Linked DNA regions of Homo sapiens. The protein of the gene in region 2 interacts with the protein of the main gene of each other region in a pairwise test. Each region holds a gene or a part of one and is shown on either strand. Other genes may lie near its edges.

Region 1 (4,240 bases), on a different chromosome or scaffold from region 2:
GGGTGGGGCACTGTGGTAACAACAGAGAAGGTAGGCCTGAATGGTTCTCAAAGGGCATCCCTGGGACCTGGCCTTGGATTTGCAGGCCAAGCTCCACCTCCACCCCTCTGTCATCAGCCTGTTGAGGGCTCTGGGCCAACTGGAACCTGAGTACCTCTTGTATTCTACTTGGAGATGCCTGAGGGCATTGTCTCCAGATCTAGGGATGGCAAAATGCAGTTTAGCCTTGGGACTGCAGGCTAAGTAAAGCCAGGGGGCAGCAAGGACAGGGGATGGGGGTTCCCAGTCCTAGCTCTGATCAGGGGGCGCTTCATGCCTGGTGGTGCTAGATTTCCTGGTACAACATAACCTGCTGGAACCAACAAGGGAGAGGGGCCATAACCAGGATATTATGGGTCGGGGTACAGGTCAGAACCCCATGTTCTAGTAGCCATTATGTTCCAGACACTGAATGCCACCACTGCCATCCACCTTGGCCTGATAAGGTCCCCTGTCCATCTGCTTGGGTCCCCGTGTCTGTATAGGCTATACAACTGTGCTAGAGCACGAGAAAGAGGAGAGGCCAACATGCAGACTTTTCAGCTTTTATTACAAAACAGGACGTGATCCCAGCCCAATTTTCCAACAAAAGTCACCACCTCAATTTGATTTGGTCAAGCCCTCTCTGGCTGGGGAGTGGGCTGGCCGACAAGAGCAAGGCCCCGTCCCAGCCATCCAACACTCTGTCCTTCCCTGCCCCAGGATGGACACCCAACATGTGGAGAAGTTGCTCTTGAAGCTGCTCACTGGGCCTCGTTGAAGCGGGTCACCATTGTCTTGTGCAGTGTCTCCTTGTAGGACTCGGTTGAGGTGACCCCGTAGGAGCTGCCCCGTGCACCCAGGCCGGAGCCCCGCACCCGTGTTTGGGCCTGTGTGAGGGAGGCAGGCTCTGTCAGGCTGGTGGGGGATGCTGTGAGGGGTGCTGGGGGATGGGACAGGACTGCCTGAGACTCACCTCGATAGGCGTTACAATGCCCTGCTTCTTGCGGCCCAGGCCGCTGCCCTCTTTCCAGCCCATGGCCTGCAGCATCCGACTGCCAATGTTGTCACTGCCCAGCCCGTCCCGAGTAGGCTGCTCGAAGTCTCTGCAGGGGCGGTGCACAGCATGAGTGGTCGGCCTGCCGGCCCCGGCCCCGGGCTCCAGACCCCCTCACCTGGCCCAGCCACTCACACAGAGGCTGTGGATATGCCGCCGTACTTCCTCCTCTTGGGCTCTGGCGGCTCGGGGATGCCATACTTTTCTCTGCGTTCAGCTGCACGGTCCCGGTACTTCATTTGCTGAAAGTTTGTATGTGTATGTGAATGTTGGGGAGCTGGTCTCTTTTCTCAGGCAACACAGGCATGGGGAGTGGGGTCCCACAGGGCATGCCATCTGGCTAATGAGGCTCAGGTCCTGAGGGTCAGGCCATCACAGGCACAAGCAGCCAGGATAGGAAAATGGGGAAGAAGGCTCACGGGGTTAACACGTGAGAAATTGAACTCCAGCTGCCTGAGGTGATGGGGACTTGGAAGGGACACAGGGGAGGGAGCCCAGGGTCAGGTCACACCTCACCTCCATGTCATTCTTCTCTAGTGCTTCTAGCTCGTTTTCTGACAAGTGGGCTCGCCGGTGAATCTCAAGGTTTTGCTGCAAGAGGGACAGGATGAGAAGTGAAGAGGATGAGCCTCAGTGGGCCAGGCCCCAGCATGCCCTGCCAACCATCCGCTGTTACCTTGTGGAGCCCTGAGAGCTGCTGGTGCCGGATGAGCGCCTCTTTGCTGGGGAACTGGCGTCGGCAGAGCAGACAGGCCAGCTTCTGCCAGTCGGTGAGCTTCTCCTCCCGCTCAGGGCCCCCACGCTCCTGCTCCTCCTCACTGTCACTCTCCCCGCTGTAGGCTGCCACCAGTCCTCGCGGAGGGCTCTGTAGAGGGTGAGGGTGGGCGGTCAGGCCTGGCCAGATCAGAGCCCCCGCCCCTCTCTGCCTTGGGCACTCACTGGGCGGTCGTCACTGGCCAATTTCGGGAGATCCATGCTGGTGTGCTGTCTCTCGGCTAGTGCTCCCTGGGGTGGAGGGACACAGAAATTCAGGGACTCCACAGAGGGCCCAAAGGAAGGACAAGATTGTGGGGCAGGGTGCAGGGGGGTGGCCCCAACACACCTTCTTCTCGAGGATGGCATAGCCAGCATCTGCAGTGGCTGACTCCCGCCTCTCGTCATCTCGCAGGGAGCTGATAGGCTGGAAGCTATTTTTGAAGTTTTCTTTTTGTTTGTTGAGACTGCGGGCCCAGCGTTCCATGTCCTTGGCAATCTGGGGGTGAGGGTGGAGGTGAGGTTCCCAGAACCCTCATGACCCTGGGGCTACTAACTCTATCTGCTGACCCACTGCCCTGCATCCTCAAACACGGGCCAGCCACTATCCCTAGTCCGAACCACTGCAGAAGGCTTCATCTGGCCTCTGGGCTACGGCTCCTGACCACCTTTCCCAGCAGAGCGCTCTTTCATGAAGTATAAGCCACTCCCACCCCCAAATACAATGTCCTTAAAACCCTTCCTTCGCCTCCCATCACACCAAGAATAAACCCAAACTCGCAACCACAGCCTGCAAGGCACTTGGCACCTGGCTACTCCTGACCTCATCACTGAACACACCCTGTGCCCCCACCCCCACTGGTTTGCAATGGTGAGGTGGCAGAAGCAGTGTGGACAGAGTGGCGGGCCCATCTGGGAGGCAGATGAGTGGAAGCTGAGGCAGAACAATCAGAAGGTGAGGGACACAGTAGTGCAAGTTCCTATTTTCTGTCACCAGTCACCAGTGCTTCTTGCCAAGCCCCTCTCTGGCTGTGTTCTCTGCTATGTTTTTTGTCCCTCAAAGTTCATGTGTCAGAAATGTAATCCCTAATGCAACAGTGTTCACAGGTGGAGCCTTTATCCCGGCTGAGTGCAGTGGCTCACACCTGTAATCCCAGCACTTTGGGAGGCCAAGGCGGGTGGATCACTTGAGGTCAGGAGTTTGAGACCAGCCTGGCTAACACAGTGAAACCCCAGCTCTACTAAAAAAATACAAAATTAGCTGGGCGTGGTGGTGGATGCCTGTAATCCCAGCTACTTGGAAGGCTGAGGCAGGAGAATTCCTTGAACCCGGGAGGCGGAGGCTGCAGTGTGCTGAGATTGCACCATTGCACTCCAGCCCAGGCAACAAGAGTGAAACTCCATCTCAAAAGATAAATTTAATCCCTGATGCAACAGTGTTGACAGGCAGGGCCTTTCAGAGGTGATTAGGTCACAAAGGCTCTGCCCTCCTCAAGAGATCGCGGCTGCTTTTTAAAGAAATTGTATAAGTTTATGGGGTAACAAGTGCTTTTGTAGCCAGGCGCGGTAGCTCATGCCTATAATCCCAGCACTTTGGGAGGCCGAGACAGACACATCACCTGAGGTCAGGAGTTTGAGACCAGCCTGGCCAACATGGCGAAAACCCGTCTCTACTAAAATTACAAAAAAATTAGCTGGGCATGGTGGCGGATGCCTGTAATCCCAGCTACTCGGGAGGCTGAGGGAGGAGAATTGCTTGAACCCAGGAGGTGGAGGCTGCAGTGATCCGAGATTGCACCACTGCACTCCAGCCTGGATGATAAGAGCGAAACTCCATCTCAAAAAAATAATAAATAAATAAATAAAATAAACAAGTGCTTTTGTTACATGCACAGATTGTATAGTGCTGAAGTCAGGGTTCTTAGAGCATCCATCAGCCAAATAATGTACATCATACCCATTAAGTAATTTTTCATCCTTCACCCCCTCCCATCTCCTCCACCTTTATATATATATAATATATATATATTTTGAGAAGGAGTCTCGTTCTTGTTGCCCAGGCTGGAGTGCAATGGCACGATCTCAGCTCACTGCAACCTCCGCCTCCTGGGTTCAAGTGATTCTCCTGCCTCAGCTTCCTGAGTAGCCGGGATTACAGGCGCCTGCCACCACGCCTGGCTAATTTTTGTATTTTTAGTAGAGACGGGGTTTCGCCATGTTGGCCAGGCTGGTCTCAAACTCCTGACCTCAGGTGATCTGCCCACCCCAGCCTCCCAAACTGCTGGGATTACAGGCATGAGCCACGGCTCCCGGCCCCCCTCCACCTTTTGAGTCTCCATTTAATGCCATCACTGAGTGGGTTCCAGATAAAAAGGGGGAGTTTGGCCCAATTTTCTCTTGCTCTCATGCATG
Region 2 (3,588 bases):
GATAATGCAGAAGACTCTGGAAGAAAATATGCTGGCATGTGTGTGCATTACAGAGGGAGAGGGAAAGGCATGGAATGCCAAAGAGAAAATGAGAAACAAGGCCTCACTGAAAACACCAGATCTGATATATAAATAGGAATATGTGTTTAACTATCTTGTATGTTTGTAAGTGTAAATGTAGAAACAAAATTCTGCTTGTTTTTGGAATTTTCTTATGAAACCTCTGAAGTATTAAAAAGAAGGTACTGTGTGTTAGTTGATGGACCTGCGGCTTTGCTGGGTTTCCGGAAGGAATTCAGTTTTGCGTGGCAGGTACTCGAGGACCTGTGGGCAGCAGGCAAGCCCAGCAGCGCCCGTGCAGGGTCCTGTGGGAGACGCCATTGGAAAGCTGGTGTGGGCAGCCTGTACCTGGGGCCTCAGCCCTGATCAGGGCACTGGGCAGCAGGGGAGGGGGCATCTGGGGCAGAAGGAGCCAGCTGCATACCCACCTAGGCCTAGGAGAAGCCCCCCACTAGCTGCATGCGAGGAGGAGCTGGCCGTGGCTCAAGGAGGGGTCCCTGTGTGTGGTCTGGGCTCCCTTCAGGAGGTGACGGGCGTGCGCATTACCTTGTGTTTAGTAACTAGAAAGGAAGGGGCTAACATCAGCCCCTGGTGATGCTGGACAGCTAAGATTTGTGAGCTGAGAGGAACTGGAGAGATCACTGAGCCCCTTCCATACACAGGAAACTGGGGGTCTGGAGGGTGAAGGCCCTAGAGCCGGGACGCACTCCACCCAGGACACTGTTCCTCCAGAGTGACTTGCTTCCCACATCAGCCAAGTGAACGAGCATTTTAGAGACATTTTCTCATAAGTTTTTTTCCTTCCCACAGAACTGAACCAACAAGGGAGAGCAACAGAAAGACAGATTCCAGGCTGGTGGATGTGTCCCCTGACAGGGGTTCTCCTCCTTCCCGTGTGCCTCAGGCACTTAACTTTTCTCCAGAGGAAAGCGATTCTACTTTCTCCAAAAGTACTGCCACAGAAGTAGCTCGGGAGGAAGCCAAGCCGGGTGGAGATGCAGCCCCTAGTGAGGTGGGCAGAACGGGCGCAGCTGGGTTCTGTTAGCTGAGATTCCTGGAGGCTGCTCGGGAAGCCCGTGGAACCCAGGGCTGTGGCTGGCGGAGTTCCCTGCCATGCTTCATCCTGGGGCCAGTGCCTCCGTGCCAAGCAACCCAAAGGGAGGCAGTCAGGACTTCCAGGCCTCCAGGGGAGAAAGCCCTGCATTTGACTAAGGCAAGGGTCAGGGATCAAAGCTGAGGAAGCGGGAAGCAGGGTGGCAGGAGCTGGTGGCTGCTGGTGAGCGGGTATGGACAGGGAGGTGGGCAACAGTCAGAGAGGCACGGCCCACCCCATACAGAGCCTCCTTCCACCAAGGCCCCGCCTGATTCCTTGGCTTTCCAAACCGCCAGCCCACCTGGAACATGAGCAAAGCTCACATTCTCCCAAGATGGTTGCCAGAAAGATGCTGGACTCTGCTCTTAACCTTGGTTTTGTACCCAGGCTCTTCTTGTAGATATCAAACTGGAACCACTCGCGGTCACTCCAGATGCTGCAAGCCAGCCCCTCATTGACCTTCCTCTCATCGACTTCTGCGATACCCCAGAAGCACACGTGGCTGTAGGATCTGAAAGCAGGCCTCTGATCGACCTCATGACAAACACTCCAGACATGAATAAAAATGTGGCCAAACCTTCACCGGTGGTGGGACAGGTGAGAAGTGGCAGGTGGTTCATGTTGACTCAGCCCTGGGTGTCCTCAGTTCTGGGATTGTTCATCCTCCCAGGGCCATCGTGGGACCCTTGAGAGTGGCTGTTGAGTCTTCTCAGCTACACACCTCAGGGCAGGATGCACCTTTGGCAGCCTGAGCTTCTCAAAGATCAGCTGCCTCTGAGGTGCCCTGCCAGGACCCTGCCAGCTCTTGTTGGACAGGGACCGCCTCTCTCCTGCCCATAGACCCCAGGGCCAGATGTGGGACAGAGGAATGTGCATGGTGGGGGCCTGGGCTTCTCCGTGTGTGTCCTGTCTCCTTCCAGCTTCTTAGACGTGGTGGCCCAGAGTGCTTTTCAGTGCACCCGAGCCAGGATGAGCGAGTGGCTGTGATGACCCACGCAGCCAGTCCTCTGTGCAGGGAGGGGAAGGGAGGCCCTAGCCGGATCCACGCTCACCTCCTCCACTCTGCTCTCTTCCAGCTCATAGACCTGAGCTCCCCTCTGATCCAGCTGAGCCCTGAGGCTGACAAGGAGAACGTGGATTCCCCACTCCTCAAGTTCTAAGCCGAACCAAATCCTTTGCCTTGAAAGAACAGCCCTAAAGTGGTTTTCAACCCTCAGAAACAAGCTTTAGGCTGGTCGCAGTGGCTTACACTTGTAACCCTAGAACTTGGGAGGCTGAGGTGGGCGGATTACTTGAGCCCAGGAGTTCGGGACCAGCCTGGGAAATATAGTGAAACTCCTGTCCCTACAAAAAATACAAAAATTAGCCGGGTGTGGTAGTGCATGCCTGTAGTCCCAGCTACTTGGGAGGCTGAAGTGGGAGGATGGCCTGAGCTCAAGGAGATGCAGGCTGCAGTGGGCTGTGATTGTGCCACTGCACTCCAGCCTGGGCACCAATGTGAGAACCTGTCTTGGAAAAAAAAAAAAAGAAACATGTTTTAGTAGAAGTTTTATTTGAAAAAGAAAAATAAGCATAAATATATTCCCAGTGCTGGAGAGGGTGGGCTGAGGGACTGGGGCCAGCACGGACCACCCAAGGCCTCTGCTTCCCGCCGCCACCCTCCTCGCTGCCATTCTCTGGGCTGGAATGTGAAGCCTCAGTCACTCTAAATGAAGAATTTTCTTTTGAATGTTTTGTATGTAAAATAGCAAGTGGCTATTTTTAAAGTTAAGTTTGTATAAATAGTTAGATATTCTAGATTTACATTAAATTGTAAAATAAATGGACTTATTGAAGCATATCTTGATTTTTAAGCTTATCTTGATTTTCAAACATGCATAGCTATTTTTATCACTCTAATCAGTAAGGCTACTATCTAGACTCGAATGCTTTCATACAAGTGATTTTCAAAAATTAGTCAATAAAAATTGATGTCAGTGCAGGCCCAGGCCCGCCCCCAGATACACTAGTTTCTAGGTCTGGGGCCAGCCTAGTAATTGTTACTAGGCACACAGGTGATGCTGACTCGATGGCCTGAGACACACCCCTTGAGAAGAAGCTGCTCTGGGGAGACGAGGGTATGAGTGGAAAGAGGATGGGCGAGGAGGCCGGGCTTACCTGGACACTAAGGTGATGGACGGCGTCTGCTGGGCAGGCCTCGGGGAGGACCCCTCAGCTTTGCTCTCAGCAGGGGCCCGACAAGCTCAGTGGGCAGTGGCAGGAACTGAGTGCCACTGGAAAGCCCATTCCCTTTATTTAGAAAACGAGCTCCAGGAAGCCGCTACTTTGTGTCCATTTCTCTTGAGGAAACTTACCACCTTGGTTGAGCGGCTTCATGGCAGACAGCAGCGAGCCAGCGGCCGGACTCTGTATTTCGGACCCCACTCCAGTGCTCC
Region 3 (3,647 bases), on a different chromosome or scaffold from region 2:
TTTTTGTATTTTTAGTAGAGATGGGGTTTCACCATGTTGGTCAGGCTGGTCTCAAACCCTTCATCTCGTGATCTGCCCACCTCGGCCTCCCAAAGTGCTAGGATTACAGGCGTGAGCCACCGTGCCTAGCCTCAGAGAAATCTTTTTAAGGATTAGACAAGCATTTTATTTTTATTACAAGAATTAGACAAAACATTCAAACAATGCTAAAGATAATGCTGCCAAAATGACAGAGACAGCAAGTAGTTCAGTGTTTTAAGGATGCTACGGCAGTTTCATATTGCTATTCTTTTAAAAAGGGAATAAAGGAGGCACCTAAGTTGGGAAACTTGTCTAGTACCCTGAAGAAACAGTTTCTCCAAGGCAACTAAAGACAGGCGGCTCCCTTAACTTTCTCCCTCCAATATCACGGCAATAACTGCTAATTCTGAAGTGATCTGAAGACGACTCACTAAAAAATTTACTCTTAGACCAGTCCTTGTATTATAAGAACCTTTGGAAACAATCTTTCAGTTTTTCAGTTTATCTGAAGTACAGTGGAAGAAAATGCACACTAAGAGAATAATCTTGGGTTGTTCTGATAGAGAAGGGGGAAGGATTCTACTTCCTAAAGCATATAAATAATTTCAAATATTAAAACACTCTAAGAAACCCACCAGGAGGGCTTAACCCTTGTAAAAACGTTAGAAAAAGAATATCAAGAGACAGTAAACTTTTAGGGGGCAACTTAACAACAAGAAATTAGTGAGGCAAATAAGCACAGGAAGCTTGTTCCATGTAGTCAAATCCATCAAAAAGGATTGTGCATAAAAAGGGTCAGCATGTAAAGAATGAGGAGAGAAGCTAACACTGGAGAGGACAGGGTGGATAATAAAGTAAGGTGAGGTCAGCTAGGGCTAATGAGTGGGAAAACATTTTGTGTGTAAGTAATCACTATAAAATATTTCATAGCTGTTACGTCTCAAACTATCCCAACTCTATAGACAAATCACTCTTCTATTCATGTACCAGGTATGGTGAGTTGCTCCTGTGGTTCAAGGTAGAGAAAGGATTTATATACATCACTTGATCCCATCCAATGCTCAAATCCTTAGAAAGCACTACTTCACACCAAGATTCTTCTTTTTTTCTGAGATAGAGTCTCACTTTGTCACCCAGGTTGAAGTGCAGTGGCGCAATCTTGGCTCACTGCAACCTCCGCCTCCTGGGTTCAAGTGATTCTCCTGCCTCAGCCTCCCGAGCAGCTGGAATTACAGGTGTGCACCACCACACCCAGCTAATTTTTGTATTTTTAGTAGAGATGGGGTTTCACCATGTTGGCCAGGCTGGTCTCTAACTCCGGACCTCAGGTGATCCTCCCACCTCAGCCTCTCAAAGTGCTGGGATTACAGGCGTAAGCCACTGCACCCAGCCTTCTTTTTTTTTAAATCAAGGATTTTCAAATGACACGTAAACAGAATAAGGAAACACATCATCTTGGATAATCGAATGGAACCAAACTGAGATTCCCTTCCATGCAGTATCTGTAATTCAGGTATATGTGTCTAAAATTTGTAATGTAAAAATGATCACTGAAAATTGAGTAGTGGACTAACATGCAGATTTGGACAGCTCAGAGACCAAATGCATCACCAGGAAACCCTTCGTACTATATGCTTAGGCAACCAATCCACTGTTTTAAGATCCCTTAAGAATAGGATAGACTAGATCCTGGAGAATCTTGGTATGGCTACCACTTTTAGAAACAAAAGGATTGAATGAATACAAAATTATCACAAGATTTAAATGGTCTCTCTGGGCCACAGAGCCTCAGTTCAAAGAAGCTGGTGGGAACTGCACAGGGCAGGTCTGTTGAGGGTTCTACTGAAGAAACAAGGTATCAAATTGTTTGGATTTTAATCCCCCAGCATCACAATTCATTTTACTTGTTCAGCTAGTAAGACAGAAACACAGTTAAGGGCCGGAGATTTTTCTCAGCGGATTTATGCAGTAATAGATTAAAGTAAAATCAAATTCTACAAATTAAGTGAAAAGTACATTTTACATGCACTGATGTTCAAAGTTTCATTCCAGGGAGATTAAACATGAAACATATATTTAATACTGAATAACTATCTCAAAGAATTTTGTGTTTAATGGCACAGAAAGAACTGTGACTGTCTCATGAAACTTCCTGCTTCCCTGTAAACAAAAGAGAACATGTGTGATTTTCAATTTAAATAAGATCTTCTCCACTTGTCTGCTCAGTGTTCCTAACCTCCACCCTCTTCTTCCTCATATCCCACTGAGGGAAGTAACTAGCCTAGGATTTATTTTTCTCAGAGCAACCAACTTGATACCATTGTTTCTTTTAATTGTAACCAAGGCTTAATCAAAAATTTTGGCTTTATAATGACCATTTCCACAGTTCCCACTTCACACCCTCCTTGTCCTTCACTGTACATTGTCGTTGTCCACCACCCCTACCCACCAGGAGTGGAATCTGTTTTGAGTACAGGGACCCACTTTTTTTTCCTTTTACCTCACTAGTCCTGGCACAGTGCTTAGCAAACACAAGTAGCTCAATAAATAAATACTTATTGATGGACATAAGGAAGAGAACTGGACACTGTGCAAAGCCTGTCTCAGTATGAAAAGCCAAAACTCCCAGCAGAGCAACTGATCTCAGTCACCTTTCCAGAGTTCTCCCTGGCCCAAGAGAGCCAATGTGAATCCCAGGACTCCCTGTGTTACAGGAATAAAGTAGCTCTGGCAAAAACAGGCTTTTGCAGCAAATGCTCTAAGAGATCAGGGAATAAGCACCATAGGGTTCCATCTAGGAAAAATATTAATTTTCCTTGAGGAGCAAAGTGCACATGAAGGGCTTCCTGTGCATGGGCCAGCTTGGGGCGAAATCAGTAACATTCTTAAAACATTCTAAAACACAATTTGTACTGGGTGCCTTCAGACTAAGCCAGCTTCTAACAATTCTAGCCAAAGTTTTTTTGTTTTTTTGTTTTTTAAATAATTTCTGTAGCTTCCAGATGACACTAACACTAACTTTGTCAAAAATAACTAATTGATATGTGTGTGGGGGGGAAGCACTCATCCCTCACCTTCCACAAAACATAAGATATTCAAAATTCACACTTTCTTCAGCTTGCCTAGTGTCAAATATTGCCCGTTGGATATATGTATCTATTAAAGTCCACATACTACCTTTAGCCTGTCTTAGACCCATAAAAAAGTCCTTTTTAACTGAGGAGACCAGAGAACAAACTATTGAGGCCAATAACTTATACTCTAACAAAGCAGTGACCACTGGACAATGAGTTCTGCGTATTTCTCAAAGTGAAATGAATGGCACTATTATCAATCCACAGATAAGAAATTAGAAGGGGAAAAGCTTTTCATTAATAACAAAGGTGGCTGGGTACGGCGGCTCACGCCTGTAATCCCAGCACTTTGGGAGGCCGAGGTGGGCAGATCACAAGGTCAAGAGATTGAGACCATCCTGGCCAACATGGTGAAACCCCGTCTCTACTAAAAATACAAAAATTAGCTGGGCATGGCGGTGCGCGCGCCTGTAGTCCCATCTACTCAGGAGGCTGAGGCAGGAGAATCATTTGAACCTGGGAAAAGGAGGTTGCAGCGAGCCAAGATGGTGC

The links.
Region 1: the proteins of GTSE1 (region 2) and RBM10 interact in a two-hybrid assay, tested with the Homo sapiens proteins (one large-scale study listed by BioGRID).
Region 3: the proteins of GTSE1 (region 2) and CPSF7 interact in a two-hybrid assay, tested with the Homo sapiens proteins (one large-scale study listed by BioGRID).

Annotation. Positions count from the first base shown.
Region 1 is NC_000023.11:47,183,142-47,187,381, reverse strand, and holds the end of RBM10 (RNA-binding protein 10), read right to left. Parts: intron 2,328-4,240; coding exon 2,178-2,327; intron 2,081-2,177; coding exon 2,015-2,080; intron 1,941-2,014; coding exon 1,752-1,940; intron 1,667-1,751; coding exon 1,592-1,666; intron 1,318-1,591; coding exon 1,211-1,317; intron 1,125-1,210; coding exon 995-1,124; intron 909-994; coding exon 783-908; 3' UTR 569-782; downstream 1-568. UniProt on the Homo sapiens protein: Binds to ssRNA containing the consensus sequence 5'-AGGUAA-3'. May be involved in post-transcriptional processing, most probably in mRNA splicing. Binds to RNA homopolymers, with a preference for poly(G) and poly(U) and little for poly(A).
Region 2 is NC_000022.11:46,327,818-46,331,405, forward strand, and holds the end of GTSE1 (G2 and S phase-expressed protein 1), read left to right. Parts: intron 1-870; coding exon 871-1,072; intron 1,073-1,540; coding exon 1,541-1,750; intron 1,751-2,229; coding exon 2,230-2,313; 3' UTR 2,314-2,993; downstream 2,994-3,588. UniProt on the Homo sapiens protein: May be involved in p53-induced cell cycle arrest in G2/M phase by interfering with microtubule rearrangements that are required to enter mitosis. Overexpression delays G2/M phase progression.
Region 3 is NC_000011.10:61,423,340-61,426,986, forward strand, and holds part of CPSF7 (cleavage and polyadenylation specificity factor subunit 7), read right to left. Parts: intron 1-3,647.